Regions from separate parts of the Homo sapiens genome. Here all the other regions are reported to be linked to region 1. The links are microRNA targets in miRTarBase. Many come from high-throughput screens and were not tested one by one. Region 1 holds a microRNA gene; each other region holds the end of a gene's coding sequence.

Evidence for each region. The annotated mature microRNA hsa-miR-4446-5p reads AUUUCCCUGCCAUUCCCUUGGC and lies in region 1 at 1,747-1,768, shown strand. An mRNA with a match to its seed (bases 2 to 7 or 8) in the 3' UTR can be bound and repressed. Matches are read on the target gene's strand: a 7mer-m8 pairs with bases 2 to 8, a 7mer-A1 pairs with bases 2 to 7 and ends in A, and an 8mer does both.
Region 2: miRTarBase lists PPP1R3G as a target of hsa-miR-4446-5p. Seed matches in the 3' UTR shown: 7mer-m8 at 516-522 and 7mer-m8 at 813-819.
Region 3: miRTarBase lists ACTN2 as a target of hsa-miR-4446-5p. Seed matches in the 3' UTR shown: 7mer-A1 at 477-483 and 7mer-A1 at 736-742.

The regions. Positions count from the first base shown.
Region 1 is chr3:113,593,137-113,596,288 of GRCh38, forward strand. MIR4446 (microRNA 4446) reads left to right here and starts at 1,740; the gene lies at 1,740-1,806. The region is part of intron 10 of SIDT1 (SID1 transmembrane family member 1); the gene reads left to right.
Region 2 is chr6:5,086,172-5,089,171 of GRCh38, forward strand. PPP1R3G (protein phosphatase 1 regulatory subunit 3G) reads left to right here. Exons shown (of 1, transcript NM_001145115.3): 1 at 1-3,000. The coding sequence ends at 391. All of the region lies in intron 3 of LYRM4-AS1 (LYRM4 antisense RNA 1), which reads left to right. It also overlaps a transcript of LYRM4 not described here. Among named protein-coding and RNA genes, the nearest start is that of PPP1R3G, 2.3 kb to the left of the region's middle. RefSeq lists an enhancer at 1-141.
Region 3 is chr1:236,762,251-236,765,250 of GRCh38, forward strand. It overlaps ACTN2 (actinin alpha 2), which reads left to right. Exons shown (of 21, transcript NM_001103.4): 21 at 211-2,381. The coding sequence ends at 369. Among named protein-coding and RNA genes, the nearest start is that of MTR, 32 kb to the right of the region's middle.

The DNA of each region.
Region 1 (3,152 bases):
GCAATTTACAAACCCTCCCTTGATTCCTATCCCGCAGAGTAGTCTAGCCTGCAGTTGGAAAGCAAAGCTAGTGAAAACCAATTCTATAGTTCAAGAGGTCCCAAGCCCTAGGCCGTGGACTGGTACTGATCCGTGGCCTGTTAGGAGCTGGGCTGCACAGCAGGAGATGAGTGGCAGGTGAGCAAGTATTACCACCTGAACTCCACCTCCGCTCAGATCAGTGGCAGCATTAGATTCTCATAGGACCGCAAACCCTATTGTGAACTGTGCATGCGAGGGATCTGGGTTGCGTGCTCCTTATGAGAATCTAATGCCATAACCCATCCCCACCCCCGTCTGTGGAAAAATTGTCTTTCATGAAACCAGTCCCTAAATATTGGTGCCAAAAATGTTGGAGACTGCTGCTGTAGTTGATAATTATTGAGACGTGGAGCTCACACTAAAAACCTTTACTAGGAGTGTCCCTTGTAATCACAGATCATTGGTCAGCCATTCATCTTTTTTAAAAGTTTCACCTTTTCTAGGACATAATTGTTCATACCTGTCCTATCCCAAAGCTGATTTGTGAACAACAGTAAGAATGTATTGTGCCAACTCTGATACATGGTTTACTTTTTCCCAAACTAAGATGGAGGCTTTCTTAAGTGTCTAGAAAACTGAAATACTTGACCCTAGCAAGTATAATAAAGAGTATAATAACTTGGGGGAATCCAGAGTAATTGACTATCCAGCAATTGTACTATGCCTTTTCCTCCACTCTGAGAGTTTGAACAAAAGAATTCAATGACCTGATCTTTTTAACAAAATTAAAAATTTAAATGTCCTCATTTTTGAAAAACCTAAACTCAGTGCTCATAGGTTATTTGGCATAGAGCAAGAATTTGGTTAAAGAGGAATATGAAGTGGAACTTGGTTTTTAAGTCATACATAGCAGATGTTTAGGTGTGTGTTTTCCACACTTAAATGAGGCCACAGAATCTTAGAAAGACTTTAACTCACCCCCTACCCCCCTCCAGCAGGATCATTGCTCCCTTTGCTGGAGAGTTTGCTTTTTTCTTTTTAATGTTTGTCTTCCTTAATGTCAGCATGCCTGTTTTTCCAGCCACCCAAGCACTTTGTTTTATAAACATTCAGCTGTCAATATAAAAGACTATAAAAGAACACCTGCTCTCGTGGCTTTAAAGTGCTAAATGCTCCTCTCCCTTTTAGTCGTCAGATGTTTAAATGAATTTGTCTGCTCTCTGGATGTCATCTTTTTTCCTACAGGAAAAAAGTTTTGTGCCTCCAAGTTTTGTGATTAGTTTAGGCCTAGTTGAACTTAGGCCTACATCCAATCGATTGAATCCCATTGGGTAGCCTCTGAATGGTTAGTCTGTTATTTTTTATAGTATGAGTGAAGTCTTTTTATTATAATAATATTTATTGAAGGAATTCTGCATTCAGAAGGGTCTGTTGAACATTGAAGCATAAGTGGACAAAGCTGGGACTTGAGCCAGATCATTGTCCAGGTTCAGGGAGGCTCTGAAAATTAGCTAAGAGCTGGAGGTACCCTTCTGATGGTAAGCGGAAACAAATGAGTGACCAAAAAGAGTAAAGATGCATCATTGAGATTCATGTGGCTGTAGGTAACCACAGCAACAAGAAAAAAAAAATCTCAAACCTGCTTAATCAAGAAAGAGACTCCTAGCTCTGGAAGTAGAGCCAAAAGATGTACTTCAGGATTGATGAGTCCAGTGGCTCTGGTCCATTTCCCTGCCATTCCCTTGGCTTCAATTTACTCCCAGGGCTGGCAGTGACATGGGTCAAGGCTCACACCTTCACCTGGCAGCACCAGAGGGAAGGACCTTTTAAGAAGCCCTCAGCAACTTCTTGTGTTTCATTGGCCTAGAGTGAATCATACACTTATTGTTAAACCAGTCACTGCAAAGAACAGATTTACCTACACATCAGATAAACCTACTTTCAGAATTAAGATTAGGTCCTCTTCTCTAAGACCAGAGTTTCTCAAACTCAATATTATTGACATCATAGGCCAGATAATTCTTTGTTGTTGGGGGCTATTCTGTATCTTATAGGATGTTTAATAGCATCCTTCACTTCCGTGCACTAGATTCTAGGAGTTGCCCCTCCTTGGGACAACTAAAAATGCCTCCAGGCTTGGTGCAGTTGCTCATGCCTGTAATCCCAGCATTTGGGGAGGCCGAGGTTGGAGGATTGTTTGGGCCTAGGAGTTCGAGACCAGCCTAGGCAACATAGTAAGACTTCGTCTTCATAAAAACAAAAAATAAACAAAATTAGGTGGGCGTGGTGGTGTGCACCTGTGCTCCAGCTACTTCGGAGGCTGCTATGGGAGGATCGCTTGAGCCCAGGATGTTGGGGCTGCAGTGAGCTGAGATCGCACCACTGCACTCCAACTTAGGTGACAGAGCAAGACCGTGTCTCAAAAAAAAAAAAAGCCTCCAGACATTGCCAAATGTCTTTTTGGGGGCAAAACTCTTTCCCCACATCCCCCTGTTTGAGAACCATGGACCTAAACACATGAAGACACCTAAATAACACACCAGCTTAGGTAAGAAGTAGGGAATAGGAATATTCACCACACAAAAGTCTTGAAATAGGAAGAAAATAAGGAACCTTTGTAAGGTAGAGAGGCCACAGGGAATGATGGCATCACCCCCAATGTCATGACCACTGGTGAGTCAAGACCTAGATGCTTAAACCAAGAGCAGAAGACAAGCACTGCCCAAGGGAAGAACCAGTGACTTTTTTAGGCATCTCAAACAGAGCATAGAGAAATCAACCAGGAGCAAGAGACAGAGGCAAGTAAGGACCATATCTGGAAGCTAGTGACAGACATTCAGGGAAGAAACAAGGATACAGAAATGTCTTTCTCTCCCAAGGCCAGGATCAGCATGACCATGGGGCACAGGAAGTTCGATGGAGCTCAGAGTTACAGGAAATGCCTTGGGTGCTTATATCCAGAGAAAATGCTAGAAGCAGCTTCTTAAAGGGGAAGAGGATCCCACTAGACTTAATACGGTCTCTGCCCACATCATTGTGGAGCTAGATATCTGTGGAACTTAGCCTAAGGCTTTCACCTTAGACGTGACTGAAGTGGAAGAAATGGAATCAGGTCCCTACAGGTTGCCAAA
Region 2 (3,000 bases), not on the chromosome of region 1:
GGGCGCTGAGGTGAAGGGCTCCGGCCGGGTGCTCAGCTGCCCTGGGCCCAGGGCCGTGACCGTGCGCTACACCTTTACCGAGTGGCGCTCCTTCCTGGACGTGCCGGCTGAGCTGCAGCCCGAGCCGCTGGAGCCACAGCAGCCAGAGGCACCGTCTGGGGCCTCCGAGCCAGGGTCCGGGGATGCCAAGAAAGAGCCAGGCGCCGAGTGCTTCCACTTCTCGCTGTGCCTGCCCCCGGGCCTGCAGCCTGAGGACGAAGAGGACGCCGACGAGCGCGGCGTCGCGGTCCACTTCGCTGTCTGCTACCGCTGCGCGCAGGGCGAGTACTGGGACAACAACGCGGGCGCCAACTACACGCTGCGCTACGCGCGCCCTGCGGACGCGCTCTGAGCCTGGAGAGTTTCGAAGAGCCGTGGGGCGGGGTTGATTAGCACGTGGAGCTCGGGCTGCCGCCTCAAGGAACTTGCTGGGACGCTTTGCTGAGCGTGGCGAGTCTGGCGTGAGGGGCGCGTGGAGGGAAAGGAGGGAGACTTTGAACCGTCGACTCGCACCCCCGCAGACAAGTGAGCGAGCTTAGAGAGCCCGGGCAATGCTCCGAAAGCCTCTGACCTCAGTCTTCTCGTCCGTTTGACCTTCCTACAAGGCCTCTAGAATTCCCAGCCTGCGTCAGAATAGGAAGAAACTTCCAAGGCCCGGAGCAGCTGCCTCCAAGAAAAAGGCTCCCAACTCCCGGGCATGGTTCTAAGGCCTTGGGATTGGTTTTTAACTCTAAATATCATATTGTAGCCCTTGCAGTTTGCTGGAGACCCCTAGGGAAAGAACAAAGCGTCCTGCCACGGTGCACCAGAGGAAGGTGCCACGGACTGTGGGTGCACGCGTGGGACCTTTACACCCCAACCTATTTCTCAGAGAAAACCCTTCGGGGCTGGGCCAGGCCACCCTTTTCTTTTGACTGAGATGTGGGTAATGTGTGCCCAGACTTGACGTTGTTTATTGTGCGACATTGTGTACAAATGTCCTTTATAAAAGTAAAGGCCACTCGCACCCCCTTTTACGCTGTACTCTGAATTTTGGCTTTCGTGAGTTTGGGGAGGCATTGGCAGTCGGCCGATCTTTGTCAGCTGATGATGTGCGCACTTTAACAATCCTTAAACAACAGCCTACAAATTCCTCCCCTTCGTTCCTTCCTCTCTACTGCGAAAGGGCCCAAACTTCCCATGTGCTTTAAAATGTTCTGTAGAAAGTGTTCCGTCCCCCTCCGAATTAAGACGTTTGGTGAATTGAAATGCCAGTCCTCGGGCAGGCCCTGGCTGTGATCTGCGAGAGCCGGGCACGCACGCCCCGGCGCCCTTTGTGTAGGCAGAGCACACTGTTAGGAGACTTGCCGGGCCATTAGCAGTCAGAGAAGCTGGGCCCTTTTAGTCGCTGGACTGCCAGCGCAGGGGATGGGGGATGGGAAAGTGGCTTTCTGTTCCTCTCAGAGCCACAGTGGGGAGTGGTGACTTGATGGAAGAGGAGGCATGCCCAGCGAGTCAGTGCTGCGCAGACGCAGATGGCCACCTCTGCAGGCCCGTTGGGTGGGGTATGGACGGCCTTGGTCGCTGTGCTGGCTGTGGATGCCAGGATGATGTGGCCCTCTGTGCATGGGTGGGCAGGAGGGCATCCCGAGTAAGGTCTGTCGCCCCTTGACTCTGCCTCAGTGATTTCCCTTTTTTTAAGTCTTCCCATTTTCCAGCACATGGCGAGTACAGTCAGTCGTTTTAGGGATGGTAGTCTCTAAGGAGGGACAGTTTCACTGTTGCTTGATAGAACAGGGCTGGGCATACGTACATTTGGCCCATGGGCCAAATTTGGCACACAGCTTATTCTTGTAGGGCCTGTGACCTAAGAATAGTTTTTACATTTTTATTTTTAATTTAATTTTCTTATTATTATTTTTCGAGACGGAGTTTCACTCTTGTCGCCCAGGCTGGAGTGCAATGTGCGATCTTGGCTCATTGCAACCTCCGCCTCCCAGGTTCAAGCGATTCTCCTGCCTCAGCCTCCAGAGTAGTTGGGAGTACAGGCATCTGCCACCACACCTGGCTAATTTTTGTATTTTTGGTAGAGACAGGGTTTCACCATGTTGGCCAGGCTAGTCTTGAACTCCTGACCTCAGGTGATCCACCCGCCTTGGCCTCCCAAAGTGCTAGGATTATAGGCGTGAGCCACCTCACCTGGCCTTACATTTTTAAATTGTTGAAAAAAATTCAAAAGAAAGTACTATTTGGTGGCACGTGAGAATTATATAAAATATATATTTCAGTGTTCACAAATCAGGTTTTACTGGAACACAGCCGTGCACACTCATTTCTGTCTTCTCTGTGCTGCTTCCATGCTACCGCAGCAGAGTGGAGTAGACACAGCAGAGACCAGATGGCAAAGTGTAAAATATTTACTATCTGGCCCTTTTACAAAAGGCTGGCCAACCCCTGCTCTAGGGAAGTAGTGTTTTTTAAACACAATATGCTGACAATTATAGTTAATAAAGCATTTAGACTTTAGTGAGCTTTTGCCACTTGAAATAAACCCCCTTTGGGTAAAGGTAAAGCTTTATATGACTCTCAGTAATCTTGTTTAGAATAAACACGAAAATGTGAAAAGTGCGGTTATCATTGTGTCAGGCAGGGGAATCTACCTGTTGCCTTCTTTCACCTAAAAAAATAGTAACACATCAGTGCAACTGAAACATAGCACCCGTTTGAATTGGCTTCAAACTACAAAGCTGCCAGATATTTCTCTGTGCTTCAAAATGTGGCATCTTACACAATGGAAGTATTTAGTTTGAACTTTGGGTTGGAGATATCCCTTTGACTATGGCAGTGTTTCCCAAAGTAAACTGATCATAGGAAAAAAATAATTTATTGACAGCAAGCCATCAGGAGTTAACATATTACAATTTAGACTTTTAAAAATGGTCAATGGTCATATCAATGAACTAATGAATACTTAATTCATAT
Region 3 (3,000 bases), not on the chromosome of region 1:
CCCTTCCTGCTGGCCAGGCCGCTTCTAGATACGCTCCTACAAGTAAAACTTGGCTTTCTGTTGGTTGTCTGGTACTACTATGCCAATAGACTCCCTATTCTTTAGTCCTTTTAAAAAATTAAACAGATGCAAGAAATATGTAAGTATTAAGACTGTTTATGTTGTGGTGTTTCTGCAACTGACTGCAAACACGTGTGTATTTTTTCCCAGCCATACATCCTGGCGGAGGAGCTGCGTCGGGAGCTGCCCCCGGATCAGGCCCAGTACTGCATCAAGAGGATGCCCGCCTACTCGGGCCCAGGCAGTGTGCCTGGTGCACTGGATTACGCTGCGTTCTCTTCCGCACTCTACGGGGAGAGCGATCTGTGATGCTGAGCTTCTGTAATCACTCATCCCATCAGAATGCAATAAAAGCGGAAGTCACAGTTTGTTTCCTGGAAACTTTGACAAGCTTTATTAAGTTGAGAGAGAGAGAGGGGAAAAAAAAAAGCCTTTCGTAGTTCAGTAATTGCCAGCAATATAACACGGCTAAAATGAAGTTTTTACAGTATATGACATAGTGCGCTTCATAAATAGGTTTATTTCTGAGTTTTTAGCAAAATGTAATGAAATATCAGGTTGATTTCTTTGATTAAACAGAACAAATTACTTGAGTAATAGGAAATTAGGAGGATCTAGGGACAGAAGGAAAGTGAAAAATGTGAAAATACAAAATACCCAAGATTTAAGACCGGGGGGAAAAAACCACAAATTGGTAAATAAAGGTTTGCTATTTGTAAAAAATTTCATTTATCTCTAATATGCTTATGTGATTGCCCCTAGGGGAGTATATTTGGGATTCTAATGTTTTATTTTCATGCTTATCCAAAGATTACTATTGTATCTTCAAATGAATTTAATATTGTGAGATGGAACTGCCGGGGATTAAAAAGACTACCCAAAAGATTTTTGGCACTTACAATTTTTAAAATAGTTTATGTCATCTCTTCATTATTTAGGGCTGGATGGTCAACTCAGTCAGTGATTTTTTGATGCTTCTCTTATCCTCCAGAATAGAGACCTAAGGACACGTGGAAGTCAGTTTAATTGCCAGAGAGAAGGATGCAATCACTAGGTAAAATGAGGTTTTTAGGATTATTTATTGATTCCAGGTTCCCATGCTTTTTGTTAGAGCTTATTAGTACAGGTTCTCAAGAGATGACCACATAAAAGTGCTCTGTTTATAAATAAGCAGGTTTCTGTAGTACTGACTGGTTCATCACAAGGCAAGTCAGAAACCAGTATCCTTCTAGCTCTCCAGTCAGGACTTCCTTATGCCTCTAGTTTTATGACCGGTTAAGGAGAAGCCAGAGTTAGAGTAGGAGAGGACTAATTCTCAGCAGCAGTGGAGGTGAGTTCTTTCTTTTGCGGAAGCTTTACATATGTTTTGTGTAGTAGGAATAACTAGATATTTTAGCTAGTGTGCGGTGTGTGTTCACCCCTGGGATTGGACAGTGTATCCTAACAAGTCCCATGTCTGGTTCTGTGTCTAAAGGCCTGCTCCATGACACAGGATGCTACATGCACTCCTGCTAGCACATCTTGATCTGTTGAATGTTCATTCTTTCTTTTTGCTCATACTGCTGTAGGCTATAATTCCCCCCTGTTTTTCCATCTTGTTGACAGCTTGTAGAGAATAAAGCAGGAATTCTTTTTATATCTGAGTCCTTAATGATCAGGAAATGGATTACAAACAAACAAAAACAGTTGCAAACAGCAATTAAAGCATTACTAGAGAAGCAGTAACATGTCTGTTACCTACAGTCTGTTTGCTCAGATTTTTATAGATTTCCACCAACAGCTGGAAATGTAATATTTCCATTCCAAGCTGTCTGACAGCTTGACTCTTCTTCCTACACTGGGCCATTTAGAACCTTCAACCTTTATGAATTTCACTTAATTTGCTTCATTATTAAGTAATTGGTAGTTTCCAGATTCCTGAAATATTTGAATCCTTGAGTTTAATGCCAAACACTTTTGGGGTGGTTTAGATGAACTCTGACTCTATTTTATTTCAAGTAGGTGCTATATCCCGGCCATAAACCCCTATAGAAAAGCCAGAAAGTTGTGCTTCCTTTGAGGCTATTAGGGGGCTCTGTGGTGTTTTAGGATGGGTGTGGGTAACTCATCTACCTAAACTTTTAATTTCTTTACAACATTCAGCAAGAGAGGGGGTCAGTAGTCTCTATCTGCTAATAAATGAAGAAAGGAAGTAAACTCTGAAAAATAATAAACATGTTTATACTCTCATTTTAGGTATTATTTTTATTTCTGAAGCTGGATGCTCAAAAATTAAAACGTTTATAAGTTTCTAAATTAAACTTAATTTATAAAAGAAAAAAGAATCCCTATTTTTGTTATTTCAAAAAATAACCATTACTTTGGTTAACTACAAACAAACTTCCTCACTTAAAGGTTCCATGAGAATTAAAAACAGTCATTGGGTTAGTATTTGCCTCCCTTAAAGAATTAGAGACAGGCTTACTGGGTAGAGGGTGAACATAAGATGGAGAATTAACAATGAACCATTTAGAAGTGAATGATGGATGGCCCGGGGCATGGTGGCACACACCTGTAATCCCAGTACTTTGAGAGGCCAAGGTGGGCGGATCACTTGAGATCAGGAGTTCAAGACCAGCCTGGCCAACATGGCAAAAACCCATGTCTACTAAAAATACAAAAATTAGCCGGGTTTGGTTGCATGCCTGTAATCCCAGCTACTCAGCAGCTAAGGCAGGAGAATCACTTGAACCCAAGAGGTGGAGATTGCAGTGAGCCGAGATGGAGCCATTGCACTACCAGCCTGGGCAACAAGAGTGAAACTCCATCTCAAAAAAAAAAAAAAAAAAAAAAAAATCAGTGATGAATAGATTAGGAAGGAATTTTTAACCAAGAGATCACTTCAGAATCCTCAGTAAATATTTTCTAAAATGTATGCATACTCAGCCCTAATCCCAGAGT